4 separate regions of the Homo sapiens genome follow, and all the other regions are linked to region 2. Evidence: fine-mapped expression QTL. A gene starts in region 2. Each other region holds a variant in brackets. All regions are shown on one strand. Distances are between the middles of the regions.

Region 1 (8,099 bases), 950 kb after region 2:
TGGTGGAGGAAGCAAGCAAGCTGAATCCCCAGGGGCCAGAGGGGGCAGTTAGAGATGAGGCTGAGGGGGTGAGCAGGGGCTTGGTGAGCATGGGAGGCCTTGTGGAGTGGCTGAGTTTGGAATTTATCCCAGGGTACCGGGGAGCCACCAGTGGGCTTGAAGCAGGGGGGTTTTGTGATCACGTGTGTGCTTTGGGAAGGTCACTCTGGCAGCTGTGAGAGGGAGGAGGCCGGAAGCAGGGAGGAGCCTGCAGTTACATTAGAAGAAGCAAGAGTCTGGGCCTGGTGGCTCACGCTTATAATCCCAGCACTTTGGGAGGCTGAAGCAGGTGGATTGCTTGAGCTCAGGAGTTTGAGACCAGCCTAGGCAACATGGCAAAACCCCATCTCTACAAAAAATACAAAAATTAGCTGGGCACGGTGGTGTGCACCTGTAGCATCAGCTACTGAGGAGGCTGAAGCAGGAGGATAACTTGAGCCTGGGAGGTTAGGGCTGCGTGAGCTGTGACTGCACCACTGCCTGATAGCCTGGGCAACAGAGTGAGACCCCATCTCAAAAAAAAAAAAAAAAAAGAAGCAAGAGTAGCCTGGGCCAGAGTGGGTAAAGGCTAGAAGCAGAGGCTTGAAAGTCATGCTCGCTTTAGCATGCGGTTTCATATGACTACTGTGATGTCCAGTGACTGCTCCGCTCCATTCCTTCCACACCTGTAGCCTATACCTTTACACTTCCCTTTTCATCCTTGACTTTTACCTTCTAATACTCAAGGTTTAGTCTGATATTTCCACACTAATATAAAACGAAATAGAAGGCACTCGAGGGCTAGGGACATCCTCTATCTATCTCTGGTAGTACCTAACCTTGAACATAGACCTGGGTCCTAAGCAGTTATTCAGGACATACTTGTAGATTAATAAGTCATCACCTAAATACCTCTGCTGTCTGCCTGAGAGCCTGAAGTTTCCACAATTAAAGCCCTTCCCAGCCTGGGCAACATAGTGAGACCCTGTCTCTATAAATAATTCTTTTTTTTTTAATTAGCCAGACATGGTGGCATGTGCCTGTAGTCCTAGCGACTCAGGAGGATTGCTTGAGCCCAGGAGTTAAAGGCTGCAGTGAGCTATGATTACGCCATTGCACTTCAGCCTGGGTGACAGAGTGAGATCCCATCTTTTTTTTTTTTTTTTTTCCTGAGACAGAGTCTCGCTCTGTCGCCCAGGCTGGAGTGCAGTGGTGCAATCTTGGCTCACTGCAACCTCTACCTCCCAGGTTCAAGTGATTCCCCTGCCTCAGCCTGCTGAGTAGATGGGATGACAGGCACACACCACCACAACCAGCTAATTTTTGTATTTTTAGTAGAGACGGGGTTTCACCATGTTGGTCAGGCTGGTCTCGAACTCCTGACCTCGTGATCCACCCACCTTAGCCTCCCAAAGTGCTGGGATTATAGGCCGTGATTGCCATCACACCAAGCCTACAGTCCCCCATTTTTTATGGGGGATATGTTCCAAGCTCTCTGGTGGATGTCTGAAATCAAGGATAGTCCTGAATCCTATATATAGTATGTGTTATCAATCTGATAACTGAGATGGCTACTAAGTGGCTAATAGGTGGGTAGTATATACAGCATGGGTATGCTGGACAATGGAACGAGTCACATTCCAGGCAGTATGCAGCAGGATGTTGTGAGATTTCACCACTCTACTCAGAATGGTGTGCAATTCGAAACATGATTTCTGGAAGTTTCCATTTAGTATTTTCAGACTGCAGTTGACCATGTGTAACCAATAGCAGAAAATAGCAGAAAGTGAAGCTGTGAACAAGGGGGAGACTACTGTACTCATTCTGATTTTGCCAACAAGTTGCCGGACAACCCTGAGCAAGTCACTTCATTTCTGAATTTAGGACAAAACTGCCTGGCTGATCAAATAGAGCTGTGAGCATCACTTGAAAAGGCAGACATGAAGGTGTTTTGCAAAATGAAAAATATAGAGATGGATTATAAAGGGTGATCCATGCATGTTTGGAAAAGTAAGTAACAGCACAGAAAACAAAATCAACTTCTAAAACATTGGATATAGGTTTAGCAACAGTCCTTTATACCTTTAAGAGCAGTCATTTGAGCTGAGAGGTAAAAAATAAATATGGCTGGCCGGGGTAACCCCAGCACTTTGGGAGGCTGAGGCGGGCAGATCACAAGGTCAGGAGATCGAGACCATCCTGGCTAACAGGGTGAAACCCCATCTCTACTAAAAATACAAAAACATTAGCTGGGCATGGTGGCACATACCTGTAGTCCCAGCTACTCAGGAGGCTGAGGCAGGAGAATTGCTTGAATCTGGGAGGCGGAAGCTGCAGTGAGTCGAGATCTCGCCACTGCACTCCAGCCTGAGCGACACAGCGAGACTCCACCTCAAAATAAATAAATAAATAAATAGGCCGGCGTGGTGGCTCACGACTGTAATCCCAGCTCTTTGGGAGGCTGAGGTGGGCAGATCACATGAGGTTGGGAATTCCAGATCAGCCTGACTAACATGGAGAAACCCCGTCTCTACTAAAAATACAAAATTAGCCGGGCATGGTGGCGCATGCCTGTAATCCCAGCTACTTGGGAGGCTGAGGCGGGAGAATTGCTTGAACCCGGGAGGTGGAGGTTGTGGTGAGCCAAAATCATGCCATTGTACTCCAGCCTGGGCAACAAGAGCAAAACTCCGTCTCAAAATAAATAAATAAATAAATAAATAAATAAATAAATAAATAAATAAATAAGGCTTTCACAGGGGTCTGAAGAAAGCAGACATTAATAAGGAAAAAAACTCCTACAGTCTAGGCAGGAGATGATATGGAAGGATGAGTCTTTAAAATGTTAGAATAGGCCGGGCTTGGTGGCTCATGCCTGTAATCCCAGCACTTTGGGAGGCCGAGGCAGGCAGATCGTGAGGTCAGGAGATTGAGACCAGCCTGGCCAACATGGTGAAACCCATCTCTACTAAAAATACAAAAATTAGCTGGGCATGGTGGTGCGTGTCTGTAATCCCAGCAATTTGGGAGGTTCAGGCAGGAGAATTGCTTAAACCTGGGAGGCAGAGGTTGCAATGAGCCAAGATTGCACCACTGCACTCCAGGCTGGGCAACAGAGCAAGACTCCATCTTGGGGAAAAAAAAAATTTAAATGTTAGAAGTGGTTAGGCTTGGCAGTTGATGTTGGCAGACAATGAAAGCTTTCCAAATGTCTTTAAAGGTTTAGCATCACTACTCTACACCCTCATCCAATGGTGTAAGATGACTCGCTGTCCCCCAAATACTCTTGTAGACTTTTATGCCTTTGATCATGGCTCTTCACCTTACATGTCTTCGTGTCACTTGTTAATGCTTTGCTAATCCTTTAGACCCAGCTGAAATGAGATACTCCTGGAGTGATTTACTCCTTTAGCTGTGAGCTCATTTCTTTCCACTATAACAGTTATTGCATTAATTTTTTGTGTGTTTGTTTTAACCAGTTTTACTAGTTAAATTTTGAGTCCAAGGGCAGGAAACACATCGTGAGTCATCTTTGAATCTCCAGTGCCTAGAACAGGAAGCTACACACACCAAGTATTCAATAATTACTTGATGAGCTGCATCATGTCTCACACATGTTCTCAACAGGTATAGAGAAAACCAGAGTGTTCACATGTAACTTTAGGCCTTACCCCAAGGAGGGCAGGAAGATTCCCTGCTCATTATGTCTTAGAAAATCAATATGTCTCCCCTTCGTTTGTTGATTATCTTGATTAAAGAGTTTTTAAAAAACATGTAAATGATCATAATTATTGCAAGCTTTACAGGGGTAACAATAGGAGCCAAGGAAGATCTTGGAAATACAACTGTTCTCCTGAGAATCATAGGATAATGATTTCTGGCTGGGTGCAGTGGCTCATGCCTGTAATCCCAGCACTTTGGGAGGCTGAGGTAGGAGGATTGCTTCACACCAGGAGTTCGAGACCAGCCTGGGCAACATAGTAAGACCCCCATCTCTACAAAAAACAAAAAACCTTAGCCAGGTGTGTTGGCACTCGCCTATAGTCCCAGCAACTCAGAATGCTGAGGCAAAGGTTGCAGTGAGCAGAGTTCGCCACTGCACTCCACACCCCAGCCTGGGCAACAGTGGACAATGCGACCCTGTCT[CA/C]AAAAAAAAAAAAAAAAAAAAAGCTGCTTTATTTCTTGTCTAATCCTTATGGCTGTATCAAGCACAATGATCATCCCATTTTATTTATTTATTTTTTTGAGACAGAGTCTCCTCTGTCACCCAGGCTGGAGTGCAGTGGCGCGATCTCGGCTCACTGCAACCCCTGCCTTCCAGATTCAAGCAGTTCTCCCGCCTCAGCCTCCTGAGTAGCTGGGATTACAGGCACCCACTATCGTACCTGGCTAATTTTTGTATTTTTGGTCTTGAACTCCTGACCATAGGTGATCCACCTGCCTTGGCCTCCCAAAGTGCTGTGATTACAGGCATGAGCCACCACGCCCAACCTATCATCCCATTTTATAGAAGAGAAATCTATAGTTGAGTTGTTACGAATTCAACAGAGACCACACGGCTAATAAAAAACCAAGACTAGACTTGAATCCCGAACAATCTAATTCTAGCATCCAGAGAGGGTGACATTAAACATTTAAGTTACATAACTAACACTAGTTAATCTAATTAACTGCTCATCAAATATTTCTAGTAATTTGGCTTCCCCGAATGCTCTCCTATAGGGGATCAATATGCCTTTTGCCAGCACGAGGACACTGGTCCACTTGCCCGTTGTTAACAGCACTCTGCTTATCTAGCAAGCGCCTGTGAGCCTGACAAATCCCCGAGGAAGGAATCTGCTCTTAGGGTACAAACCACATTGGGTTTCTGGTCCTGTACGTGAGGCTCAAGGCCAGATCTTTTTTTTTTTTTTTTTTGAGACAGAGTCTCACTCTGTCGCCAGGCTGGAGTGGAGTGGTGCGATCTCTGCTCACTGCAACCTCCGCCTCCCAGGTTCAAGCGATTCTCCTGCCTCAGCCTCCTGAGTAGCTGGGATTACAGGCACACGCCACCACACCCAGCTAATTTCTGTATTTTCAGTAGAGACGGGATTTCACCATGTTGGCCAGGATGGTCTCAATCTCTTGACCTAGTGATCCGCCCACCTCGGCCTCTGAAAGTGCTGGGATTACAGGCATGAGCCACCGTGCCCAGCCTAGCCTTATTTTTATCACCTCAACTGTTTCACAGCCTGTCATCATATTTTCCCTCAGCTTGTTTCTTTCCAGCCTCAAACATTCTATTCCTTTTGTTTGGCCTTCTGTTCCTTCATCTTTGGAGCTGACTCCATAAAGTAGGACACATCAAGATTTACCATAAAGACAAGAAAATATTTTGTTTGTTTATTTATTTTTGAGATGAAGTCTCGCTCTGTCGCCCAGGCTGGTGTGCAGTGGCGCAATCTCGGCTCACTGCAACCTCCACCTCCCAGGTTCAAGCAATTCTCCTGCCTCAGCCTCCCGAGTAGCTGGGATTACAGGTGTGCCACCACGCCTGGCTAATTTTTATATTTTCAGTAGAGATGAGGTTTCACCATGTTGGCCAGGCTGATCTCAAACTCCTGACCTCAGGTAATCCGCCTGCCTCGGCCTCCCACAGTGCTGGGATTACAGGTGTGAGCCACTACGCCCAGCCAGAAAATATTTTCTTTTCTTCCTTCCTTAGTGATCCTTCGCATTTTCTCAGCCCTATGTGAGAGCAGTACATAGGGTCCTTGTCTTCAGAAAGCAGGCTTCAAGGCCACTTGGACCCCATTCCTGGCTTTTGATGCCTCAGAGATCATAGAGTTATAAATATAATTAATATATAGTTGTAAATATAATCATAAATATAATTGAGGCTTTTTTCCCTCTAAATCCACTGCCTCAGGCTGGGTGTGGTGGCTTACATCTGTAATCCCAAGACTTTGGGAGGCTGAGGTGGGCGGATCTCCTGAGATCAGGAGTTCAAGACCAGCCTGGCCAACATGGCAAAACCCCGTCTCCACTAAAAATACAAAAAATTAGCCAGGAGTGGTAGTGCACACCTGTAGTCCCAGCTACTCGGGAGGCTGAGGCAGGAGAATTGCTTGAACCCAGGAAGCAGAAGTTGCAGCGAGCTGAGATCGAGCCACTGCATTCCAGCCTGGGCGACAGAGTGAGATTACATCTAAAAATAAAATAAAATAAAAAAATAAATCCACTGCTTCATATTTGCCTACATAAAAGCTTTAGAAGGTGTTCCTGTAGTCTACTCTTAAAGAAGATGGGGACAGGTGTGGTGGCTTACATCCCAGCACTTTGGAAGGCCAAGACAGGAGAATTGCTGGAGCCTGAGACCAGCCTGGGCAACACAGTGAGACCTCATCTCCACAAAAAGAAAACAAAAAACAAAAAAAAAGGAAGGTGATTTGAAGTAAAATCTTGAGAAAGTGAACTAATTAGCTTATTAATGTTACTAGAAAGAAAATCTAAAGTTTAAATGCAAGTCAGCTTTTAATTTTTTTTTTATTTTTGAGACAATGTCTTGCTCTGTCACTCAGGCTGGAATGTAGTGGTGCAATCGGGGTTCACTGCAGCTTCAACCTCCTGGGCTCAAGTGATGCTCCTGCCTCAGCCTCCCAAGTATCTGGGACTACAGGTACACACCACCATGTTCAGCTAATTTTTTGTAGAGATGGGCTTTTGCCATGTTACCCAGGCTAGTCTCAAACTCCTGGGCTCAAGTAATCCACCTACCTTGGCCTCCCAAAGTGCTGGGATTACAGGCATGAGCCACTGTGCCTGGCCTATTTTTTATTTTTTTGAGACAGGGTCTTGCTTCATCACCCAGGCTGGAGTACAGTGGCACACACATGGCTCCCTGTAGTCTCGACCTCCTGGGCTCAAGCGATCTTCCCACCTCAGCCTCCCAAGTAGCTGGGACTACAGTCATACGCCACCACACTCAGCTAATTTTTAAATTTTTTGTATAAACAAGGTCTCCCTATGTGCATGTCAGCTTTGTTGTTTCTAGTACATAAGTTCTTAAGTATACCAGGAACTATTTGGGCTGAGGAGAATGCAAAATGCAAATATTCCAGAAGCATCTGTTTGGTAATTTTCCTCTGAGTTTGTCTTTTCTTTATGTCTGAGTCCTAATGTGTACATAAGAGGCAAATGGGATAACTTGGTTTCTAGAAAAAGAAGGGTCACGTGTAAATTTTTCAAATACTTCACACATTTCTAAAATAGTATCTAATTGTATAAGGTAAGTAACTGGGATTAGACATGAGAAAACTTGCCGGGCGCGGTGAGTCGCTCCTGTAATCCCAGCACTTTGGGAGGCCGAGGCGGGCGGATCACCTGAGGTTGGGAGTTCAAGACCAGCCTGACCAACATGGAGAAACCCCATCTCTACTAAAAATACAAAATTAGTCGGGGGTGGTAGCGCATGCCTGTAATCCCAGCTACTCAGGAGGTTGAGGCAGGAGAATCGCTTGAACCCAGGAGGCAGAGGTTGTGGTGAGCTGAGATCACACCATTGCACTCCAGCCTGGGCGATAAGAGCAAAACTCCGTCTCAAAAAAAAAAAAAAGAAATGAGAAAAATTGGGTCCTGGTGTTGAGAAGCTGTACTATCCCTTTTCTTCATGTCTGTACCCAAGCAGCTGAATGTTGGAGAAAAACCAACACACTGGGCCAACTGGTTTACCTTTAACATCATGATCACAAACCTCAGATGAGTACCCAATGCCACCAAGGCAATCCTGTTAAGGACTTGCCTTCCCTCTCCCCTGCACTTGCATCTGTCTTCACCTTTGTTGCCCTTATCATGAATGGAAGCATCCCTGTTCCTCTCCAAGGTCAACCCTCCCTGTTTCCTTATATCTTCTGATGGATTTCACTCCTATATAGGTCAAGCAAGCCTCCTCTCTCCTGGATCACCCATCTTTCTTCCCCACCATATCCCTCCCAATGGCACATAAACATGCTCTGGGAACCCTACCATCTTTTATTTTATTTATTATTATTTTTTGAGATGGAGTCCCGCTTTGTTGCCCAGGCTGGAGTGCTGTGGCCCAA
Region 2 (8,093 bases):
TAGAGGGGTCAGCATGGACAATGGCTCTGTGGCAGGAGGGACCATAGTTTGTTCCAGGAACTGTAAGAGGTCCATGGGAGAGGCAGGGGAGGGAAGCACAGCAAAGAGTTATATTTTCCTTCTATACTAAGACCCTGTGCAGGTTGGGAAGCTCCCATGGTTTGTGTGTGTGTGTGTGTGTGTGTCTGTGTGTGTGTGTGTGTGTGTGTGTGTTTATCTTTGTGGGGAGGAGATGGAAGTGTTACAGGATCTTTGGGGTGTTAATTTTCTGGTTGGAAACCTCTGTGGCCAGTGGCACCTTTGCCAGAGTTCTTGTCTTGCATCCAGGAAGAATGAGGTACACAGACAAGTGGAGGGAGAACAAGTCAACAAGGAGGTTTACTGAGTGTTAGAAAGCTCAGAGGAGACTGACAGTGGGTAGCTCTTCTCTGTAGGGAGGTCATCCCGTTGAGTGTTCAGCTCTCAGCAGAGAGGAGGCCCTGGAGAGTGTGGCTCCTCTCTGTACCTGGTCCTCCCAACCTCTGCTCAGCTCTGGCTGAGACTGGGGCTTTTATGGGCCTCAGAGTGGAGGAAGTGTGAGCCCAGTTGATCTATGGGCAGCCATGGGTGGGTCAGAAAAGGAGGTACAAGTTCCCACTCTGGTCGGTCGGACTGGCAGCCTGGCCCCCAGCCTTCAGGCCCTCCCTGGCCCAAAGGTGGGGCCTCAATGGGACTTGCCCCCTTCCACCCAGGAATCTGTCCGCCTCCTGCTGCCATTCATGAAGCCCAGGCTTGCCCCAACTTTGCTCCCAGATCAGAGCACGTGTCCACAGCAGGAAGAAGCCAGGCAGCAGGAGAAGGCACTTCCGAGCCTGGGAGGGCAGGTGGGGGCCTTCCTGGGCCCCTAAGAGTACAGGGATGCCTGAGCCTGCAGCTGTGGTTTGGGCAGCTGTAGCTGTGGGAAAGGGGGTCCCAGGGCTCCTGTCTGCCCCATGGAGGAGGCCCCATTCTGCAGCTGCAGTTTGGGTAGCTGCAGCTGCACCTGGGAGAGCAGGACTCCTGCCTGCTCCATGGAGTGTGCAGCCCAGGCCATGCCTCCCTGCTGCAGCTGGGTGATGATAGCAGCAGGTTGTCTGGAGCCACGGCTGCCATCAAAAGTGATCAATGACTGGTGATTGTCATGAGTGGTACAAGGTCAAGAGATAATCAGGTCTGGCCAGGTGCGGTGGCTCACGCCTGTAATCCCAAACCTTTGGGAGGCCGAGGCGGGAAGATTGTTGGAGGCCAGGAGTTCAAGACCAGCCTGGCCAACATGGCAAAACCCTGTCTCTACTAAAAATACAAAAATTAGCTGGGTGTGGTGGCACAGGCCTGTAATCCCAGCTACTTGGGAGACTGAGGCATGAGAATCCCTTGAATCTGGGAGGTGGAGGTTGCAGTGAGCCAAGATCATGCCACTGCACTCCAGCCTGGGTGACAGAGCAAGCCTCTGTCTCAAGAAAGAAAAAAGAGATAACTAGGTCCACACGTGTTTGTGTCTTTCCACAGTGTCAGATTTTTATTCACCCTATACCCAAGGGTAAAAAAAAACAAAAGCCACAAGCTATCCCAAGGAGCCAATTTGCTTCTTCTTCTTCTTCTTCTTTTTTCTTTCATACAGAGTCTCACTCTGCCGCCCAGGCTGGAGTGCAGCTGGAGTGCAGTGGTGCGATCTCAGCTCACTGCAACCTCTGCCTTCTGGGTTCAAGTGATTCTCATGCCTCACCCTCCCAAGTAGCTGGGGTTACAGGCCTGTGCCACCACGCCCAGCTAATTTTTGTATTTTTAGTGGAGATGGGTTTTCGCCATGTTGGCCAAGCTGGTCTCGAACTCCTGACCTCAGGTGATCTGCCTGCCTCAGCCTCCCAAAATGCTGGAATTATAGGCATGGGCCACTGCACCCAGACCCAAGGAGCCAATTTTCCTTAGTACTTCCCGTTCACTCAGTAGTGAGCACATGGGCTCAAGCCACTCCACAAGTCAGTCAATATTGCAAACCATATATAATAGTATACTTAATCCACATGTAAATGTTATAAACATTCCACAACAAACAAAGTAGCATTTAACATCAAGAGAAAAAGAGATAGGAGAAAGGGTTAAGGAACCAGTTCCAGGGTAAGGAAGAAGACAAAAGGAATCCTGGTCTGGGCTTGAGGGTCTTGCAGAGTCTTTGAGGGGCAGAGCCTTGGGAGGCAGATGCAGAGTTCTTATGAACGGCAGTGGGATGGTTGTCAGTTAAGGCTGCTGGGCTGCTGTTTTGTAGTCACAGAGTGCTCTGGTGAGAAATGGTAGAGGAACAGTGTGCTTCTTTGTGTCCTTATGTGGTTGGACGCAGTCTTTATTTATTTTTTTTTTTATTTTTTGAGACAGAGTCTTGCTCTGTCGCCCAGGCTGGGGTGCAGTGGTGTGATTTTGGCTCACTGCAACCTATGCCTCCCGGGTTCAAGCGATTCTTGTGCCTCAGCCTCCTGAGTAGCTGAGATTATAGGCACGGTGCCACCACGCCCAGCTAATTTTTGTATTTTTAGTAGACACGGGGTTTCACTATATTGGCCAGGCTGGTCTCGAACTCCTGACCTCGTGATCCACCCACCTCAGCCTCCCAACGTGCTGGGATTACAGGCATGAGCCACAGCGCCTGACCTTCTATTTTTTATTAAACAAAACATCTTGCCCTTGTTGGCAAAGCACCCTATGAAATATAAAATGAAGTCTTTTTCTAAGATGGAGTTAGTTATGTCAAGGGTGCGCAGTACTGTGCCATAAGCTCTCCCCCGGCTGCCCAGAGAGAAAACCTAAGGGCCTCTTAAAGACACCATCACAGCAGTTCAGCGGGGAGCAGGCAGGAATGGTTTCGGATCTAGTGGTGGTGAGAAGTAGACAGAGATCAGAGAAAGTTATAGGAGGTGAAAGTGGGAGGACCTTGGTTACAGACTGCCGGTGAAGAGGGACAAGGACAACCCGCAGGTCTCCGCTAGTCAGGTGGAAGGAAAGGAGGGGGCAGTGCCCTTCGCAGAGGCACAGGAAGCTGGGTCTTGATCACGCTGAACTCCAGACGCTCTCTAGATGTGCACGCATGTGCGTGTGGAGTGTGTGTGTGTGTGTGTGTGAGAGAGAGAGATGTGTTGGGGTGGGGGGACTGCAGGTCAGGAAGTCCTGCAGATGTGCGTGCCTGTGTGTGTTTGCGCGCGCGCGCGCGTGTGTGTGTGTCTGTGTGTGTGCCTGGAGCTGCGCTTGCAGGTCTGAGAGTCCTCTGAGAATGGGTTGGGGGAGGCGGGTGCAGGACCGAGGCCTGGAACAGCCAACAAAGAGGCCCTGGAGGAGGGTGGGGCTGGCCGGGGACAGGAGGGGTGGCCAAGAAAGTCGCAAGAAAACTCCGGCCCCCAAGAAAAAGAGAGGGCATGGGTTGCGGAGCCGACATCACGGCCGGGGTCTTTGCTGTTTAGACGCCTGGGTTCCCGGATCCCAGACACGCGCACGGGCAGGAAGTTAGACCGGAGACAGCGAGTATAGACAGCCCTTCTGGATAGGGGCAGACGGGTGGGAGCTCCGAAGGGGTGCCGGGGCGGTGATCGGGAGGTCTCCAGCGGCCCGAACCAGGGTGAAGAAGAAGGTGGAGTCTGCGGAGGCCCCAGGCCGGGGAGGGGGCGGGTCGGGCCCAGCATCCCCCGCAGCCGGGGTCCGAGGGGGAGGGGCGGGCTGGAGGAGCGGGTGGGGGCGGGGCGGGGCGTGGCGGCGGGGGATGCGCCCCTGCGCGAGCCAGTGTCGCCTGCCCTCCTTCCGCACAGCCCGGGTTTCCGCTTCCCTCCGGGCGCGAGAAGAGGGGAGCCAGGCCGAGCCCCGGCCCTACCGCCGCCGCCGCCATGTGGCCCCCAGACCCCGACCCCGACCCGGACCCCGAGCCTGCCGGCGGCTCCCGTCCCGGCCCCGCGGTCCCCGGGCTCCGCGCCCTGCTGCCGGCGCGGGCTTTCCTCTGCTCTCTCAAAGGCCGCCTCCTGCTGGCCGAGTCGGTGAGTGCGGCGGGACCCTCGGCCGCCCCGCTAGGACTGCGCGGCTCCTTTCGGAGGAGGACGTCGGGGCGCGGGTGGGGTCCGGGGGCGGCCGCCGTGCTCCGATACCCCCTCTCCGCGCCGCCTCGGCCGACTTCTCTCGGGCGCCTGGCGAAGTTGGGTCGAGGTCCCCAAACTTTGGACGGCGGGGCGGGGCCCGAGCCCAGGCCATCCGCGGCGCTGTCCCCGCGAGTCCAGAGCTGGGGGCCGTGGGAAGTGGGTGGGGCCCGGGGATGTGGGTCCTGCTGTGTGAGCCAGGCGCCCCCGCCCTCTCTGGGCCCCGGGGACTCGGGCAACTCGGACCTCCGGGACTCCCGGGCCGCAGCGGGGTCCGCTTTCCTGCGAGCGGGTAGTGCGGGCCGGGGCCTCGACCTGCGGGGCCGAGCCGGCGGGGGGCCGTGCGGAGCGGGAGGGATCCCCCACCCCCGGGACTGGGTGAGGCGGCCCCGCGGTGACTTCATCGCCCTCCTCCCCTCCGCGGCCGGGCTCCTTCCTACTCCGCCCTCGCCCCCACCCCGGCCGGTGGGGCTTCTTTGTCCTCTGGACACCGGAGGCGCCCGCACTGTCCGCTGTGGGGTAGGGGTGGCGCTGGGCCGTTGGGGATGGGGAGGGAGAGGCCGGGCCGGAGACCGGGGGAGGCGGGAGGAGAGAGCGGCGCACGGCGGCGGCCACTTGTTGCTTAGATCCCAGGAACTTGGCGCTTCCTGCCCTTGTCCCCACTTTACAGATGAGAGCGCTCAGGCGCCTGATTTGACAGGTGGCTCAACTGAGGGGCCCAGTGAGAGCGGCCAGGAGGGTGGGGGCAGGAGGAAGGGGGATTCTGCTCCGGGACCTCTCCCTGGTCACTCAGGGCAGAGGGCAGAAGGTGGTCCTGCAGCCTCTCCCACGGTCAGCCCAGAGGCCACCTGCCCAACGCCCAAGTGAGACACCAATGCCACACTCCGAGCCCACACTCCCAGCCCCACCCTGGAGACCACTGGGAGCCACTTGAGGGGAGAAGCCTCGAATCCACCGTCCCCAGAGTGGCTTGAACCCCCCCATCCCCACCCAAGACCACCTCATAAGAGGGAGGCATATGTCCAGCAGGAGCATAGAGGCCACCCTGGGCCCAGCAGATGTCAGGAATCCAGGTCAGGGAGGATAAGGAAGGGTGAACGGTCAGCACTCAGGGTTCACAGGAGCCGCTGAGGGCACTCCTGCCTCCCTAGTCCCCTCACTCCCACCCCCAGGCCAAGCAAGTGCAGAGGCTGAGATGGACAGAAACAGAGAGAGGAAGTGGCCCCAGAAATCGCGGGATGAAAAAACAGGAATTGAGAGGGGAATCCCCAGAATTAGGCTTTGGGGTGCAGGCATAGGAGACAGGAAGGGGAGGGCCAGAGCTGGGTCAGTCCCATGGAAGGCCTTCCTGGGAGGCCCCAGCAGCCTCCCAGCCCGTCTCTATGCCTTAGTCTATCTTTCCAAAGGGGGCTCAGCTGCACCCAAGGCCATGTGCAGAGCAAATGGGGGTGCTCTGGGGACCCCCTGGGATCCCTGCAGTTCATTTGTCTGAAGCAGCCACAGTGCTTCCTGTGGGGCATCTGGGTGTCCCCATGGGGACTCCTGCACCCACTAGAAACTACTCAGCCATAGACATGTTCAAACGCAGCCACAGTGACAGAAACCAGGGACAGATGGCCTCCCCAACACCCACAGGGCCAAGTTGCTTAAGAACTCTACCTGGGCCGGGCGTGGTGGCTCATGCCTGTAATCCCAACACTTTAGGAGGCCGAGGTGGGTGGATCACCTGAGGTCAGGAATTCGAGACCAGCCTGGCCAGCATGGTGAAACCCTGTCTCTACTAAAAATAAAAAAATTAGCTGGGTTTGGTGGCGGGCGCCTGTAATCCCAGCTACTCGGGAAGGCTGAGGCAGGAGAATCACTTGAACCCCGGAGGTGGAGGTTGCAGTGAACTGAGATCGTGCCACTGCACTCCAGCCTGGGAGACGGAGCAAGACTCCATCTCTGGGGCGGAGGTAAGATAACTCTATCTGGGGGGTCAGCCAGCCCTGGGTTCAAATTCTAGTAGCCTCTGATTAGCCATGTGACAGAGTCTTCTCATCTGTCAAGTGGGGCTGTGCTCATGGGTGGATGTGAGGGTCAGAGGAGATGCCCGTGAGCCTCAGGGTACCAGGCACTGTGGAGCCCCAGGCTGGCCAACAGGTCACCTTGGCCTGCTCTGCAGCGTACCTGGGCTGCAGGACTGCCCAGGGCTCAACATCCTCCTGCATCAGCTCTTCCCACCTACAGAGTTGTGGGCAAGACCACAGTGAACATTTTGATTCTTGTAGTTCAAGTACAGCTGGCCCCACCTTTCACAGCTGGCCCTGTATGAATAAGGCAGCAGGGCCTGAGGTGTCAGTGCCAACGCACCCTCTGTTAGATGTTCCTTTCTTATCATTATGAAAATTTGCAAATACATTAAAACTCCAAAAGATTTTTTTGCTTTATCTATCTGTCCATCAAGGCATTTTATCTTTTAACACAAAATAAATTGCAGACATCAGGACATTTCAACTCTGAACACTTCAGGACGCATATCATTAAGGTTCAAGGTTTTTTCTTTTCAAGGTGAAATCTACATTCAGTGACGAGCACACGTCTTTGGTGTTGGGTGTTACTTTTTGGAAACTGGTTCCTGCCTCGCTTTGATTTCCCTCCGCAGGGCACTGAGTGGAGTGCATGTGCTTGGAAGGCTGGGGCTTTCTGACTAGGTCCTGTCAGGGAGCTGGGGTGGGGTAAGGTGAGGACTCAGGGCCATGCCCAGGACTGGGAGGCAGCATAGGTGTGAGCCTGGGCCATGCTGGGTTTTTTTTTTTTGTAGGGGCGGGTGCGGACAGGGTCTCTCTCTCTCTCACCCAGGATGGAGTGCAGTGGCCTGATCACAGCTCACTGCAGCCTCGACCTCCCCGGGCTCAGGTGATCCTCCCACCTCAGCCTCCCAAGTAGCTGGGATTTCAGGCACACACCACCATGCCCGGCTAATTTTTGTATATTTTGCCGAGATGAGGTTTTGCCATGTTGCCCAAGCTGGGGTCAAATTTCTGGGCTCAAGCAATCCACCTGCCTGGGCCTCTCAAAGTGCTAGGATTACAGGTGTGAGCCACTGTGCTTGGCCTGGGATTCTAATCTGGCTCTGCCACTTCCCAGCTGCGGGACTGTGAGCAGTTGGCTTCCCCTGCTGGAACCTCCTCTATCCTGACCACAGGGCCTGGCTCAGAGGAGCACTGGACAAGGAACATGAAAAGGCTCTGACTTCACCTCAAACTCCTTCCCCGCAGGGTCTCTCATTCATCACTTTTATCTGCTATGTGGCGTCCTCAGCATCTGCCTTCCTCACAGCGCCTCTGCTGGAGTTCCTGCTGGCCTTGTACTTCCTCTTTGCTGATGCCATGCAGCTGAATGACAAGTGGCAGGGCTTGTGCTGGCCCATGATGGTGAGGACAGGGGCCCCAGGAGGGAGGGGTGCCCTGCACAAAGTGGCCAGATGAGGAGTCCAGAGTCGTGCACTTGGGCCCTTATCCTTTCTCTAGTGTGCTGGAGTTTGCAGTTGGTTAGAACTGGATGGAGAGACCCAGCTTCAGATCATCCCAGCTCCACTACTCAGCAGCCCTGTGACCTCAAGTGGGCTGTGGTGCCTCTAGAGCAGGTCTGTGAGGCAGGGAACCCGGAGAGGGGTCTCTGGCCACCAGGTGGCGCCGGTGCTCCCCACCGGGCCTACAGGAATGAGCTGCCGCCACAGGAATTCAAGCCATTTCCACGTGGGCAGGACAGGTTAACTGAGGACTTGCAGGGCTTACCCAGACTTCAGCCATCGGCAACCCTGACCTCGTTTTATCACCTGTGAGGGCCCAGACCCCAGTGGACCTCGCTGAATGAAATGTGTCCTAGAGAAAGGGCAGCAAAGGCTCAACTTGAACCCTTGTCTCTTGACTTCATATCCAGCATCTGCTGCCTCAGGAGGGCTGCACCCTCTGTGTCCCCATC
Region 3 (8,103 bases), 82 kb after region 2:
ACTTTTCTAGGCAAAAAGATTGGCAAAGCCTCTTATGGTTTCCCCAACTTTTACAAAAATCTGTCTCCTAAGCAAAATCTTCTGTTTCCTAGTAGCAGTAGATAGTCTACTTAAAGTTAAAAAAAGAAAAAGTAATTACGATGGCATTTTATTTCCATAGTTTCTCTCCAATATTTTCCACCTCAAATAGAGTCTAGTTGTGTGTGTGTGTGTGTGTGTATATATATATATATATGTATATATATATACGTATATATATATATACATATGTATATATATATACATATATATATATATATAAATTTTCCCCATGGATTCCATGTTTTCAAAAACTTGACCTTACAAACTACATTAATAACCCATTTTTTTCTTTTCTTTTTTTTTTTTTTTTTTTTTTTGAGACGGAGTCTTGCTCTGTCACCCAGGCTGGAGTGCAGTGGCGTGATCTCGGCTCACTGCAAGCTCCGCCTCCTGGGTTCACATCATTCTCCTGCCTCAGCCTCCCGAGCAGCTGGGACTACAGGCGCCCACCACCACGGCCAGCTAATTTTTTGTATTTGCAATAGAGACAGGGTTTCACCATGTTAGCCAGGATGGTCTCGATCTCCTGACCTCGTGATCCGCCTGCCTCGGTCTCCCAAAGTGCTGGGAGCTACCACGCCCGGCCCATTTTTTTTCTTTTATTAAACAAACACATACATTCAACTGTCTATTCAACACCTATGTGCCAGACCCTGGTTTAGACACGGGATACAGCAGGGAACTTGAAAGCCAAGTCTTTGCTCTCATGGAGCTGACCTTCCAGCTGGATGGTCAATGCTCTGGAGGAGAATCAAGCAGGGTGACAGGGGTCAATAGTAAGGCAGAGTGGGGTGGGGGAGTGTTCTATTCCAGATGTGGGGGGATAGGGAAGGTCTCTTTTGAGCGGGAACCAGAAGAACAGAGCCAAGTGGGAATCTCTCTGAGCCTATTCCGGTGCAGGAGGCTGCCTAATTTAAAAAATAAAAATAGCTAAGCGGGCATTTTCAGGAAGAGAGTGAGGGATGAGAGAATAAACCCTGAGTGCAAAGACGAAGGCAGGTGCATATTAATCAAAAGCTTACTGAAAGCTCCTGATCAACCTGAAGTAATCGGTATTATAAAATTCCAGCCAGAGGTAAGAAATTTTACCTCATTCTGCTTAATGTAAGCAGAAATCTGCCTTATTCTGCTTACTGTGGTTTAGAGTATAGACTGTTTGAAATATAATTAGTACCCAGGCCCTCTTTTTTTCGTTTTTGAGACAGAATCTCCCTCTGTCGCCCAGGCTGGAGAGCAGTGGCATGATCTCGGCTTACTGAAACCTCCACCTCCCGGGGTTCAAGCAATTCTCCTGCCTCATCCTCCCGAGTAGCTGGGATTACAAGTACCCACCACCAAGCCTAGCTAATTTTTTTTGCATTTTTAGTAGAGACTGGGTTTTACTATGTTGGCCAGGCTGGTCTCAAACTCCTGACCTCAAGTGATCTGCCTGCCTCAGCCTCCCAAAGTGCTGGGATTACAGGCATGAGCCACTGCACCCCTCAGCCCTCTTTCTCTCAATCCCCCATTACTACCTTAATAAACTCTAGTGATCCCAGGACCCCACTCTGAAAACCAGTGATAGCCCCCATCTCGAGAAAAGGCCACACACGAGAGGCACTGCAATGAAGCCTGAACACCCCCCAACCCACTGCTTTAAGTTGAGAATTTTTCACAAAAATCCTCCCCCATCAAGAAGTTAAACTGTTTAAAAATAGGATAGTTTCCAAATACTTAAACAAGCAGTATCTTCTCCCCCAGGAGGTGTCACTTTCTGAGCTTGAGCCCTTCTACTTATTGGCCTCTTCTCCAGCCTGCTGCAGCCCTGCTCTAGAGCCCTGGACCACTTCAAACTGAGGTCAAAGTTTAAGTCAGCTGACAGGCCGAAGCCATCCCCCTGAGCAGGGGTTCCCTGCTCTCTTCCTCTCCACCTCTCCCAGTCTATATCCTTCCTCCTTCCTGGAGCCCTGAGGCTAATGAACCCAAATCCCATCTCATCTCACCCTGCATGTTACTTCTCTTGTACACACAGCCTGTTCTCCAGGAATCACCTTATTTTCCAAATAAAAATATCAGGGTATATTGTGAGCACACGGGTACTGTCACATGAATTGCTGTAATTTCAATGCTTAGAATACTTCACAATTTATAGTAAAATAATTATTTAAAATTTAGGATTATACTTATATATGGTCTGATGAGGCAGCACAGGAAATTGAGACTGTCTGGGAAAATTTATTATCTGTGATCCCTTCTGCTCTATTCTCTAATAAGTAACTTTATTTTCCAAAGGAATCCCATGTCATCCTGCAAAAGCATTTGGGGTTACTTCCAGAAACAAGGATGCGAGAGTCAGTGATAACAGCTATAGGCTGAAAACTCCATGCTGGTATTTCCAGGCTATTTCAATGGCTCAGGGAAGACTGCTGTGGGGGAAGAAAAAAAAAAATCAACCCCAGCTTCCAGACATACCTCAGTCCTTAATGGGGTAGGCCACACGTGTGGTGCAGCTCAAGTCTGTACAGCACGACTTTAGGCTGGAAAGAGCTCTCTCCCAGGCACCCAGGTATGCATTCATTCTACCGAGAGAGAAGCATCCTGACACACAGCCCTGTCCTTACCTCTAAGCATCCTTTGGAGTGCCATAACCTGGGAAAGATTCTTACTGATTTCTTTTTTGTTTGTTTTTTGAGGTAGGGTCTCACTCTATTGCCCAGGCTGGAGTGCAGTGGTGCAATTTTGGCTCACTGCAACCTCCGCCTCCCAGGTTCAAGCGATTCTCGTGCCTCAGCCTCCTGAGTTGCTGGGACTACAGGCATAGGCCACCACACCCGGATAATTTTTTGTATTTTTAGTAGAGATCTTGTTTCACCACGTTACCCAGGCTGGTCTCGAACTCCTGAGCTCAGGCAATCTGTCCACCTCGGCCTCTCAAAGTGCTAGGATTACAGGCATGAGCCACTGCGCCTGGCCTGATTTCTAATTAAGAACAAAGTTCTGGAGCCGGGCATGGTGGCTCATGCCTGTAATCCCAGCAGTTTGGGAGGCCAAGGCGGGTGGATCACGAGGTCAAGAGATCAAGACCATCCCGGCCAACATGGTGAAACCCTGTCTCTACTAAAAATACAAAAGTTAGCTGGGCGTGGTGGCACGCGCCTGTAGTCCCAGCTACTCGGGGAGTCTGAGGCAGGAGAGTCCCTTGAATCCAGGAGGTGGAGGTTGCAGTGAGCCGAGATCGCACCACTGCACTCCAGCCTGGTGACAGAGCAAGATTCCGTCTCCAAAAAAAAAAAAAACAACAAAGTTCCAGCCAGGCACAGTGGCTCACACCAGTAATCCCAGCACTTTGGGAGGCCAAGATGAGCACATCACTTGAGCTCAGGAGTTCGAGACCAGCCTGGCCAACATGGGAAACCCTATCTCTACAAAAAATACAAAAATTAGCCAGGCGCCTGTAATCCCAGCTACTCAGGAGGCGGAGGCAGGAGAATTGCTTGAACCCAGGAGGTGGAGGTTGCAGTGAGCCAAGATTGCGCCACTGCACTCCAGCCTGGGTGACAGTCAGACTCTGTCTCAAAAAAAAAAAAAAAAAAAAAGTTCCTCCAAAGTTGTGGAGAAAGAATTAATTTAGCCCTGTGGTCCAGGAGGAGCCATTAGGACTTACAGAGGTCACCATTTCCCAGTTGTCTGTACTTGTGGGTAAGCATACTAGAAACCTGGAATAAACTGAGACCTTCAGATATGCTTTGGGAGGAAATGTCAACCAAGTCTGTATTTTTTTTTTAAATGTTCAGAAATGTGGTGGTCTTGTCCTTTGATGTAGTAAAAGCACTCCTTGAAATTTAACCAAAAATAATAATTCAAAAGAAGAATCCAGGCTACACTCATGAGGACATTTATTGACGCATCTTCCTAATAGCAAAAAAACTAGAAAACATAATCACCAGACTTTGCCACAGGGGATCATATGTAGCCTTTGGAAAGGAAAAAATTTCCAAGTCCTTTTCATTTGAGTCTGTCATAATACGATGATTATTTTTCTAATTTCTAATTTTCTTTAATGTTACAACATTTTCACTAACAAATGAGGGTAAATTCCTTTCAAATGGAAGAAGTTTTCCATTAGCATCAACAAATTTATTAAGCACCCACTATTGTGCAGAATG[CT/C]TTTTTTTTTTTTTTTTTTACAGAAAAGTGCATTTTAAAACAATTTAAGCTTCAAGTTTGTCCAAGTGGTCTGTATTATCTAAATCATTCTTCCCAAGGGCCTCCAAATTACAAAGAAAGTCATGAAAAGTTAAAGATTACAGTCAGTATATGAGCTTTAAGGCTATACTAAGGTAAAGCTAGTAACATCTACTATTTTAGTAATTTTTGAATAGAAGGTACTTGCATGTGGTACAAAATTCAAGGGCTGGGAGCAGTGGCTCATGCCTGTAAACCTTGGACTTTGGGAGCTGAAGGCAAGAGGATCGCTTGAGCCCAGGAGTTTGTGGCCAGCCTAGGCAACATAGCGAGACCGTCTCAAAAATAAAATAAAATAAAATAAAATACAAAAGGTACAAACAGTTATACAGCAGAAAATGTCTCCCTGACACCCTGGCCCTCGGCCACCCAGCTCCCCAACTTGTATCATTCCAGAGATATTCTGTATCACTATCAGTCTGTTGTCTGTTCTGGTTGCTATAACCAAATACCGTAAAAAGGGTAATTTTTTTTTTTTTTTTTTTTTTTGAGACGGAGTCTCGCTCTGTCGCCCAGGCTGGAGTGCAGTGGCGCAATCTTGGCTCACTGCAAGCTCCGCCTCCTGGGTTCACGCTATTCTCCTGCCTCAGCCTCCTGAGTAGCTGGGACTACAGGCGCCTGCCACCACACCCGGCTAATTTTTTATATTTTTCATTGAGACCGGGTTTCACCGTGTTAGCCAGGATGGTCTTGATCTCCTGACCTTGTGATCTGCCCGCCTCGGCCTCCCAGAGTGCTGGGATTACAGGTGTAAGCCACCGCGCCTGGCCAAAATGGGTAATTTATAAATAGAAATTTATTGCTCATAGTTCTGGAGGCTGGAAACTCCAAGATCCAGGTGCCAGCAGATTCAGTATCTGAGTGAGGGCCCATTCTTCACAGACGGCACTTTCTATGTGTCCTCACATGGCAGAATGAGCAAGGACACTCCCTTCAAACTCTTTTAAAAGGGCACTAATCCCATTCATGAGGGCTGAGCCCTCATGACTTAATTACTTCCCAAAAGGCTCCACCTCTTAATACTATCACACTGGGTGTTAGGTTCCAACATCTGAATTTTGGGGGAATGCCAACATTCAGACCATAGCAACCTCCAACAGGCTTTGATGACGTGGTGTCTTGAGACGCTGAGCTAGGGAGCATGGTGGGCTCACCAGCACTGTAATACTACCATTATCCCCAACTTACAATCCCCAAGTGAGAGACCTGCAGGAGATCTGCTTGTGGCCTGAGTGAACAAGTAGCTTGCCAAAAGTCTCATGGCCGATAAGAGATACGAAGTCCATCATACTCTCAGAAACACTCCCCTCAACACACACACACACACACACACACATTCTACCCTAAACAAGGGTGACTTCATGTCATTGTTCTCTCTCCCTGGAACATACCTCCATAAACCATCACTAGCCCTTTGCCTGGCTAATATAAAGTTTAGAATCAGCATTCTTCTATCTACAAAAAAACCTTGCTAGGATTTTGGGATCGTATTAAACCTATAGATCATTTGTGGAGAACTAATATTTTAACTATATTGAGTTTTCCAATCCTAATGAACACAGAATGCCTGTCTACTTATTTTGGTCATCTTTGATTTCTTACTTCAGTGTTTTGTAGTTTTCAGTGAGCAGATTCTATACATGTTTTGTGAGATTTATATCTAAGAATTTCATTCTTTTGAGTGCTGTTATAACTGATATTGGTTTTTTTGTTTTAATTTCCAATGATTTATTGCTAGGATATAAAAATACTATTGGTTATCGTGTGTTGACCTTATATCCTGTAACCTTGCTAACTCACTTATTAGTTCTAGGAGGTTTTTTATAGATTCCCATGTGATTATCTACCTAATCATGCCATATGCGAATAGGGACAGTTTTATTTATTTCTGATCTGTACGTCTCCTATTAATTTTTTTGCAACGGCTAGGACTTCCAGTATGATCTTGAATATGAGTGGTAACAGTAAACATCATTGCCTGTTTCCCATCATGGGGGAAAGCATTCATTCTTTCCCCACTGTAACATTATATATTACAGTATAATGTTAGCTGTAGATTTTTTGTAGATGCCCTTTTTCAGGTTGAAGAAGTTCCTTTCTCTTCCAAGTTTGCTGACAGCATTTATTATGGAAAAGTACTGAATTTTGTCAAAAGTTTTTTTTTTCTGCATCAAATGATAGAATCATGTGGCTTTGGGTTTTGTTTTGTTTTTGAGAAACGGTCTCACTCTGTTGCCCAGGCTGGAGTGTAGTGGCACGATCGCGGCTCACCGCAGCCTTGACCTCCTGGGCTCAAGCAATTCTCCCACCTTAGCCTACAGCTGGGACTACAGGCATGCACAACCATGTCATGCTAATTTTTGTATTTTTTGTAGAGAAGGGGATTCACCATGTTGCCCAGGCTGGTCTTGAACTCCTGGGCTCAAGCAATCCACCTGCCTCGGCCTCCCAAAGTGCTGGGACTACAGACATAAGCCACTGTGCCTGGCCTGTTATTTTAAGTTATTAATATGGTGTACACCTATAACATTTACTTTCAAAAACTGCACCAACCTTTTTGTTCCTGGGATAAATCAAATTGGTTTGGTGTATTATTCTTTCTCCATTATGCTGGGTTTTATTTTCTATATGGTATTTTGTTGAGGATTTCTGTGTCTGTGTTCATATAAGGAATATTGGTCTGTAGTATCATTTTCTTGAACTGTCTTTGTGTGGTTTTGTAAAACACATGTACGCTCTACATTTAACAACTTCTTTTGAGATCGTGGATTATAATTTCACTATTTTTAATCATCAAAAAAACTTAAGAGTAATTATAACTTTGCTTTTCTGCCAGAATTTATTTGACTCCAAGTCCTTGATCAGGAAGACAACTCCTAAAGATAACAATCTTCCTAAAGGAAAATGGGACTGTTTTACAAGGAGCCACAGAATGGTGGATCTGAGAATCCAACATAGAGAAACCCACTGCTTCATCTACCATTATGCGCTTGTATATGCATGACTTCAGGGATAAATGGGAGCCAGAAGTACAAAGGAATCTTCAGTAGTAAACAAAACGCAGAACCCTTCACGGTTTGACCAGGGTCATTGTGTGTCTGCCTGGTCATTTGACCAGCTCTTACGAATCAGGAACCCAGCTGAACCTCAGTTGAACCAGCCCCTCCAACAGAACTGAGGGGATTTGGGGCTGATAAGCTCAGTGCTATGTCTACAGCCAGTCATTTCTCAAAGTTGCAGCTTTGTAAATGTAGCTATATTTGTGTTGCATATGATTTCTATAATGTATTACTGCCCCACCCCTGCACATCCTCCAGAGAACAGTAACCAGCCAGGGATTGTGCTGACTGGCTTGAGATTTAAAAAACTAACAAGGTTTCCACCAAATAAAAGAGATGCCATTACCCACCCCTGAAGTGCAAATACTCACATTTGTTTTTGAGTTACGTAAGAAAGCAACTATCAAACATTAACCTCTTAATTCTTACAATTCCTAAAATGGTCAATTAGTCATTACTACCCATACTGTACAACTGAGGAACCCAGATTCGATGAGATTAAGAGACATCAAAATCAGCTGAGCTAAAATTTGCATTTAAACATTTCCAGGCCAGGCGCAGTGGCTCACACCTGTAATCCCAGCACTTTGGGAGACCAAAACAGCAGGATTGCTTGAGCTCAGGAGTTCGAGATTAGCCTCTAGTTTGAGGCAACATAGCAAGACCTCGTCTCTACAAAAATAAAAAAAAAAATAGCAGGGCATAGTGGCACATGCCTGTAGTCCTGGCTATTCAGGAG
Region 4 (8,103 bases), 170 kb before region 2:
GCATCATGCCTTCACTCAGCAGTCACGGGGCACTTCCTATGTGCCAGGCACCATGCTGAGTGCCAGGGACACAGTGATTGTCTGAGCTATCAAGACCTGGAGTCACCATCTCTCCCATCTCCACCATCTGCCGGTCACCCAGGCAGACAGGGAATCACCTTACACTCCTCCTTCTTCCTCACCCTCTCTATCAGATCCATCTGTCCCTAAAACCCACCAAGGGTGTTCCCGCCCAGGGTCTTTTGCCCTCTCTGCTACCTGTACCCAGAATCCTCTCTCCCCAGGTATCTGCCCACCTAGCTTGCTTCCTCCAGTCTCTGCTTACCTGCACCCTCTCACCAAGGCTTTCTGCAGCCGCTGTATCTAACCATCTAACAGTGCAATTCCCACCTGCACACACTGCTTCTGTTTTTCCTGTACTGTTAGCTTGCAGACTTCACCATTACCATTGCATCTCCAGTCCTAGTCAGAAAGGGACTGTCAAAGTGTGGCTCACCAGTCTGTCCCCAGCACCTAAAACCTGCTGCATCAGGGACTTTATTTTATTTATTTATTTATTTTTATTATTTTTATTATTTTTGAGATGGAGTCTCCCTCTGTTGCCCAGGCTGGAGTGCAGTAGTGCAATCTTGGCTCACTGCAACCCCCACCTCCCGGGTTCAAGTGATTCTCCTGCCTCAGCTTCCTGAGTAGCTGGGACTACAGGCGCACACCACCACACTCAGCTAATTTTTTTGTATTTTTAGTAGAGATAGGATTTCACCATGTTGGCCAGGCTGGTCTCCTAACTCCTAACTCCAAGTAATCCGCCCTCTTTGGCCTCTCAAAGTGCTGGGATTACAGGCGTGAGCCACTGCACTCAGCCGAGACTTTCAATAAACACTTGAACCAGTGATGGCAGCCTCTGCCCCTCCTCTGCAGTCACCGTTGCCTTTGTTTAGGCCCCATCACCTCTGGCCACGGCCTCCCAAGCTCCCTGCCTCCTGTTTCCCTCACCTGGCGCCCCCTCCACCTTCCTAAAGAGAGAATAGCTGAGCAATCCTGCTTCAAATCCTCCTAGGAACCCTCTTGGGGCAGGGGCTCACCACCTCATCGGGCCCCTTATTCTTCTGAGTCACAGTGTTGTCATCTGTGAATTGGGGATTTGTTTTGAGGATCCAGTAAGCTGACAGCATGTGGCAGCAACTGAGCAGAGGCTGTGTAAACAGGTGGCCATCCTGTGGCCTCTTTCACAAGGCCAGCCCACCCCCACAGCCTATCTCTGTCTGCCGCCCATGGTGTGAGGCTGGCCGCTCCTGGGGCCTTCCAGCTCTGTAAGCCTCTGCCATGAGGATCCCCAGACACTGGCGCGTCAGCAGACCCAGGCTCTCTCCCCTTAGCCACATGCTCCCCTGCCCAACTCTGAGTGTCACAGCAGAGCCCAGAGTGGAGATATTCCCGGAGCGGGGACATGAAGGGGAGTGGGAATGACGTGGACTTGCCACACACCATTCAGCCACTTCAAAGCCTGGAGTGCCACCAGCCCGCCCTCGAGTTCCCAGCCAGACAATCCAGTAGGAGATGAGTCACTGGCAGGAGCGAGCCTCGCATGCTGGGCTCAAAGAGAGGCGGGCAGGGGAAGAGGTGACCACGCTTGGCCTAGCAGCTGGGGTGGGCCTGCCCCCGACCCCGACCCCAACCCCGACCCCGACCCCTGGCAAAGGAACCACAGTCCCAGCCCATCTGTGCCCCTCATGGCTGTCTCCTCTCAGCAACTTCAGTCACATGCGTGCGGGACACCAGGATGGGCACTTGCTTACCTGGAGCCCCCACACCCAGCTCCTTTGTCTTGATGACCCCGACAAAGCTCTACCCTAGCAGAGGGTCTGATGCCACCAGGGAGTGGTTTTCTTCTGGGTCCTCCGGCAGAAATCCTGGAGTGGGGGAAGGGAGAAGGAAACAGGCAGCCAGGCTGAAAGTCCAGCTCCTATTTTAGGACCCCCCAAAGTCCCTCCATGTGTTTTCCAAGGGTTTTGTGGGACACCGCGTAGGTGCTTGGGAAATGAATCAATGGATGCAAGCCTGGGGTGCTAGGAGGTTGCAGCGGGAGGCTGTGTTTAAAGTGCTGATGGCATTGCAGGAGGCAGGGAGTGGCAGCCCGGGTTACTGTTGGCATCGTGGTCACCAATGGTGACAAGATGCCTGGGAAGCATCTCAGCTTTTTGCATAGAGATCCTCCTCTTCAGCAAGCCAAGCACCTTTGAAAGGCAGCCTCCACCCCTCAGTCGTGCGCTTGCATCAGGCTGAGGTTGGCTTGCTCTAGTGTTTCCATGCACTTTTGAACTTCCCCTCCGTTCCCAACCCTGAGCTAGTTTGCAGAGGCCACACTGACCCTCCATGCCCTCGAGGAGCTACTGGTCTAGAATAATTTAGATCCGGAGTTGTCCTGGAAGGGCACCCAGGTGTGACAGAAACACAGCCAGAGTGATCATTCTGTCTCCACCAGTCAAGGAGGACCTCACTGAAGAGGTGTCTTGATCTGGGTATTGACAGCTACATAGGAGTTTGCCAAGTGGAAGGAATGGCATGCTAGGGAGAGGGAACAGCCCAGAAGGATGATCAGCCCAGGGTGTCTAGGAAGCAGGCCAGCCAGAGCATCAGGGCAGCCGGTCTCTGGGGGTGTCCCTGGCAGTAACTGAGAGGCACTGGGGGTGAGAGAGTCCCTCTGCACACAGCTCTTCCTCCATCTCTTCTCTGTGACCTTGGATGGGTTATTTCCCTGAGCCTGTTCTCTCATCTGCACAATGGAAATGATGTCCCCCACCTCAAAAGTCTGTTGCAATACCATTGGTGACATTAGGCACATGCAGGTATTTGGTGAATGTGAGCCACAGCTGGAGGCCCCAGTGCCCAGAAGGCTTCCTTGTAGGGAAATGCAGCCAAAGTGCACTGAGAAATAACTGGTTTGTTTTTGTTTTTTGAGATAAAGTCTCACTCTGTCACCCAGGCTGGAGTGCAGTGGCATGATCTCGGCTCACTGCAACCTCCACCTCCCAGGTTCAAGCGATTCTCCTGCCTCAGCCTCCCGAGTAGCTGGGATCACAGGCACATGCCACCACACCTGGATAATTTTTTGTATTTTTAGTAGAGATGGGGTTTCACTGTGTTAGCCAGGATGGTCTCGATCTCCTGACCTCATGATCCGCCTGCCTCGGCCTCCCAAAGTGCTGGGATTACAAGCATGAGCCACCACGCCTGGCCAAAATAACTGGTTTTTCTATTTAACGTGAATCAGAGAACTGTCTTTGGAGAGTCTGTGCTCAAAAGTCTAATCCTTCAGTGCTAATACCAGCTCTGCCAATTCTTGGCAGTGTTTTGCCTCTCTGAGCCTTGGTGTCCTCATATTCTTCTTAGCCCCTCCCAAGCAGGGATGGCAAGCCTCAATTTGCTTTAGGGATGAGGGATATATACCCCCTCATGACCCCTGCAGGGGCAAACTCTTTTCCCATTGGCTTTAGGGCTGCCAGCTATGCCCTGCAAAAGCCCACAGGGCTTGGCACTCATGATCTCTGCTCACCAATGCCCACAGGTGCAGTTTCGCTTCTGCAAGGCAAGTGACCACACTCCCTAGAAATAAAAACCTTATCTCTCTCCTGTTCCTACAGCCTCATGTCCCTTGGGAGACATGAACCAATTCAGATCTTCAGCAACATGGGAGAATGGGCTACTTTTTTTCTTTT[C/CT]TTTTTTTTTTTTTTTTTTTGAGACAGAGTCTCGCTCTGTCACCCAGGCTGGAGTGCAGTGGCATGATCTCGGCTCACTGCAAGCTCCGCCTCCCAGGTTGACGCCATTCTCCTGCCTCAGCCTCCTGAGTAGCTGGGACTACAGGCGCCTGCCACCATGCCCGGCTAATTTTTTGTATTTTTTTTTTTTTTTTAGTAGAGACGGGGTTTCACCGTGTTAGCCAGGATGGTCTCGATCTCCTGACCTTATGATCTGCCCGCCTCGGCCTCCCAAAGTGCTGGGATTACAGGTGTGAGCCACTGCATCCAGCCCCTTTTTTTTTTTTTAAAGAGAGGGTCTCACTCTGTCACCCAAGCTGGAGTGCAGTGGTGTGAACATGGCCCACTGCAGCCTTGACCTCCTGGACTCAAGCAATCCTCCCATCACAGCCTCCCGAAATACTGGGATTACAGGTGTGAGCCATTGCACCCAGCCATGAGTTACCTTTTTAAAATGTTTTCTCCATTGCAAATTGGAGTCAAAGTGACCTGGCCCTCCCTCACTGCTCTAGACATCCACTTGTTCATCAGGTTCATACTGGGGGGCGGGGAGAGAGGGAAAGAAGCATTTTCATTCTGTAGGCCTTTGTTTCTGAATCGGTAATTTAATATACAGATGCCTTCTAAAGAATTGTGCTGGCTGACAGTGTGGGCTCTGGAGTCAAACTGATCTGGACTCAAGTCTCAGCCAGTAGTTAGAAGCTGTGTGCCCTTGGGCAAGCTGCATAACCACTGAGCCTCAACTTCCTTGTTTATAAAATGGGGATGAAAAGAGCATCCTCCTCTTATTTATGTTGGGGTAATAATAATAATAATAATAATATGGTTTGGGCTAGGTGTCAATGAACACCCTTCAAAAGCCAGCTGTGAGAGCTTGAACTAGCCCCTCACCTCTCCAGGTCTCAGTGTTCCCAGCCCTGATAGTTCCAAGTGGCTCATGATGCCATGGTCTGTTGAAGTTGTCCGAAGCAGTGGGATCTCACATTTTCATCATGAGACAGAAGAACTCTGGGATCCTAATTCCCAAAGATCCACCCAAGAGAGATATCTCCTCCCCACCACCCCCCACCACTGGGACCCCAACACACACTTGCCCTACCCCTGTGTCCCTCTCCCCATTCTACAGCCCAGAGGTCCCCCAGCCCCTTGCCCAGACTAGGCACGTGCTCTCAAAGAAGTGACCATCCTCTCCCGCAGAGGTTGACAGCTCAGGAGATGTGAGCGCCCAGCCTGCAGGGGCTGTGGGTGCGCCATGGGCCCCCCAACACCTGCCTGTTTGTGTCTCCGCAGGTGAGTGGAGGGGCCTTCCCTGCGAGAAGTCAGAGCTGTGCCCGTGGGCAGGCTGGCTCCGCTGTTCTGCTCCAAGGATTACATGTCCTTCAAACGTCCCTGCCCCTGTAAGTTTCCTCCCCACATCCTTCCACCACTTGGGGCCAGGCAAGGGCAGAGCTTGGAGTCGAGCTGCAGAGAACGGCTTGAGGTGTTTGGCCAAAGAACTGCAGGGGTCCAACCAGAGGCTAATGTGGCATGCTGGGTGGGGAGAGGGCAACACGGAAGACCCCTGACGTCTGCAAGATGCTCCCTGAGAACTGAAAATCGCACTTTGGCCCATTCTTCTGTATCAGCCCTTCCCGAAGTGTGGATCGGAGTTCCTCTGAGGGATGTTAATGGGATGACACACACCCACACACAAATAAAAGACTACATGGCCAAGTAAGTGGGAAAAATGCTGGGGGAGTCATGTTAAGAAAGTTTTGCTCCTGCAAGACTTTCCTGAGCTTTTAATATGGTGATGTGTGGCCGGCGTGGTGGCTCATGCCTGTAATCCCAGCCCTTTGGGAAGCCGAGACAGATGGAATACCTCAGGTCAGGAGTTCGAGACCAGCCTGGCCAACATGGTGAAACCCCGTCTCTACTAAAAATACAAACATTAGCTGGGCATGGTGGTGGGCGCCTGTAATCCCAGCTACTCAGGAAGCTGAGGCAGGAGAATTGCTTGAATCCGGGAGGCGGAGGTTGCAGTGAGCCGAGATCACACCATTGCACTCCAGCCTGGGCGACAGAGCGAAACTCTGTCTCAGAAAACAAATAATAATAACATGGTGATGTGTGTTGTGAGGCTCCCATAGGTAAGAGAAAACCCACTGCTCCTCTCAAACATTAACCACAAAGAATGTTTCATGGGATTGGTGTTCCCCAGAACACACTTCTCGGGGTTTACTCTCCTAAGGAAACCCATCCCGAGCATCCCCACCATGAAGTTCCTCATTCGCGGAAGCCTGTAGATGATCTTGCCCGTCGGCAGTCTTCTCATGGCTCCCTGAGGCCCCTGAGTCCAAGTGATGGAATCAGCCAGGGGTACCCCTGATGTCCAAGACTGCAGCCCCCTCGACTTCTCCCCTAGTCTCCACCCGCTTGACTCATGCCACCACCCTTGCCCCAGGGCCCCTTTCACTTCTCCCACAGCAGCCACCTGCTTTCTTCCATGATGTTCCCTGAGCCCCCCCCAAACCACCACCACTCGCTATAATTTGGGGAGACATGCAGGACTGCCCTGTCCCTTCTCCTTGATAAGTCAGGACTGTGAGTCTGTGAAATCAGAGACCCTAACCTCAGAGGGGGACACTTTCCCCTCTCCCCTGCTCACTGTGGGTAATGCCTCCCCAACTCGCCATTGTCTGTTCCAATCTGTGCCATTGTTTACGTGGATCATGGGGGTGGGGGCCTCTCTTCCAAAAGTCGAAGCCTTATTGTTAAATCATTTGGATATCAAGGGACAGCTGCAGTGGGAGGTAGGGGACACTGGCATGTCCCACCTGGGTGAGATCATCACCAGGCACGCCAGGGGGATGAGCTGGCTGTGGGGTTCATTGTTCAAAGAGTAGTGTCCAGAGGGTGGTGGAGCTCGGCCTGGCTGCTCTGGGTACCCGAGGAGGGGTAGTGATGGATAGCACAGGCTCAACAAATTGTTGCTGTTGTCACTGTTGCTGTGGCATGATCAGGAAAGGAAAGCCTGAGTCCCAGGCCAGGAGAGGAGACTGCTATTCAGGGCACCCCAGAGCCCAGGGACACCTGCCCTGCAGAGCACTGGGATGGTCATGTTCTTGGCCCTATCTTCTGGCCAGGCAGGAGCAGCCCAGCATGGAGAAGCCTGGGAAAAGTCAAGGCTGGGGATGCTGAGTGCGGAGGGCTTTCCAGAACCTTTTGGGCTGAACCCCAGGCCATTGGAAGCTGGGTCCATCTCACTAACAGAGGCCATCCCTGCAGGGCAGCCCTCTGCATATCCACCTCCTGAGGACTCCAGGGTGTGGTCACTGACATTCGAGGCCATTTAGAAGTGGCTCCTGCACATCTCTGAAATTCCCCCTTCCCCAAAGACCCAATACCTAGCATGCAGTAGGCACTCAATGTTTGTTGAGTGAATAAACACATAATTAAACACCCTGGAGGAGGAGCTAGAGGCCATTGTCAGGGAGAAGCTGAAGCCCCTGACTCTGCCACCAGATCCCTCCATGACTTTGACCCAGACATATCTCTGAGACAAAGGGGTCCACCAAGCCCAGTGGATTCCAGGAGCTCAGGACTGCTGCGAGGCTCCATGGAGACTCTGTCATTGTCTCTGCCAAATTCTTCTCACATTGTCCAGTCTGAACTTGTCCAAGAAGCACCTGGTGTCCCCTTCCAGCACCCACAATCAGCTTCAGTCTGGGTCCAGTCTGGCTTGTGCACCCGCACCCCAACATCCCATCAACTTCTGTGAAGTTAAAACCATTCCATGGTTTCCATTTCTCAGCTGCGTCTCACCCTGTTGGGTACTTCTTTTTTTTTTTTTTTTTTTTTTTTGAGATGGAGTTTCACGCTGCCACCCAGGCTGGAGTGCAGTGGCACGATCTCAGCTCACTGCAGGCTCCGCCTCCCAGGTTCAAGCGATTCTCCTGACTCAGCCTCCCAAGTAGCTGGGACTACAGGCGCCCACCACCACACCTGGCTAAGTTTTTTTTGTTTTTAATAGAGATAGGGTTTCATCATTTGACCAGGCTCGTCTCGAACTCCTGACTTCAGGTGATCTGCCTGCGTTGGCCTCCCAAAGAGCTGGGATTACAGGCGTGAGCCACAGTGCCTGGCCCCTGCTGGGTGCTTCTGTTTGTGATGACTTCTCCTGCTTTGGGTTCCCTGACTCAGAGTCCTCCCTGTGTCCTCCAGCCAGCCTCTCAGACCATCTGACCTTCCATTCGTGGTCTCCTTTGGCAGTGGTGGAAGAGCAGGGATTCTCCCTGCACCTGCCCTGGGATGCTGGGCCCCCAGGGCTCCAGTGCAGCCCCCGCCCTTCTCGCTGTGCATGCCC

Alleles and levels. Positions count from the first base shown, and alleles are read on the strand shown. Sizes are in standard deviations (SD) of each study's normalised expression. Not every link is listed here.
For the expression in whole blood of the gene that starts at base 3,783 in region 2, C is the low allele of the variant in region 3 and CT is the other (moderate effect, 0.63 SD a copy in TwinsUK).

What was found. PIP is the estimated chance that this variant, and not a neighbour inherited with it, causes the effect.
Region 1: its variant is fine-mapped to the expression of CMTM3 in whole blood (INTERVAL, PIP 0.91).
Region 3: its variant is fine-mapped to the expression of CMTM3 in whole blood (TwinsUK, PIP 0.95).
Region 4: its variant is fine-mapped to the expression of CMTM3 in whole blood (INTERVAL, PIP 0.94).

Annotation. Positions count from the first base shown.
Region 1 is chr16:67,552,538-67,560,636 of GRCh38, forward strand. The region is part of intron 1 of LOC124903703 (a long non-coding RNA gene); the gene reads right to left. Among named protein-coding and RNA genes, the nearest start is that of CTCF-DT, 5.7 kb to the right of the region's middle. RefSeq lists enhancers at 1-160, 161-660. The variant CA/C (reference allele first, on the strand shown) is at 4,165.
Region 2 is chr16:66,600,922-66,609,014 of GRCh38, forward strand. CMTM3 (CKLF like MARVEL transmembrane domain containing 3) reads left to right here and starts at 3,783. Exons shown (of 5, transcript NM_181553.4): 1 at 3,783-4,031; 2 at 7,388-7,543. The coding sequence starts at 3,885. It also overlaps a transcript of CMTM4 not described here. RefSeq lists silencers at 3,668-4,507, 4,568-4,787 and an enhancer at 8,079-8,093.
Region 3 is chr16:66,682,912-66,691,014 of GRCh38, forward strand. All of the region lies in intron 1 of CMTM4 (CKLF like MARVEL transmembrane domain containing 4), which reads right to left. Among named protein-coding and RNA genes, the nearest start is that of CMTM4, 9.8 kb to the right of the region's middle. The variant CT/C (reference allele first, on the strand shown) is at 4,227.
Region 4 is chr16:66,432,547-66,440,649 of GRCh38, forward strand. It overlaps BEAN1 (brain expressed associated with NEDD4 1), which reads left to right. Exons shown (of 5, transcript NM_001178020.3): 2 at 5,049-5,155. The coding sequence starts at 5,131. Among named protein-coding and RNA genes, the nearest start is that of BEAN1, 9.3 kb to the left of the region's middle. The variant C/CT (reference allele first, on the strand shown) is at 3,720.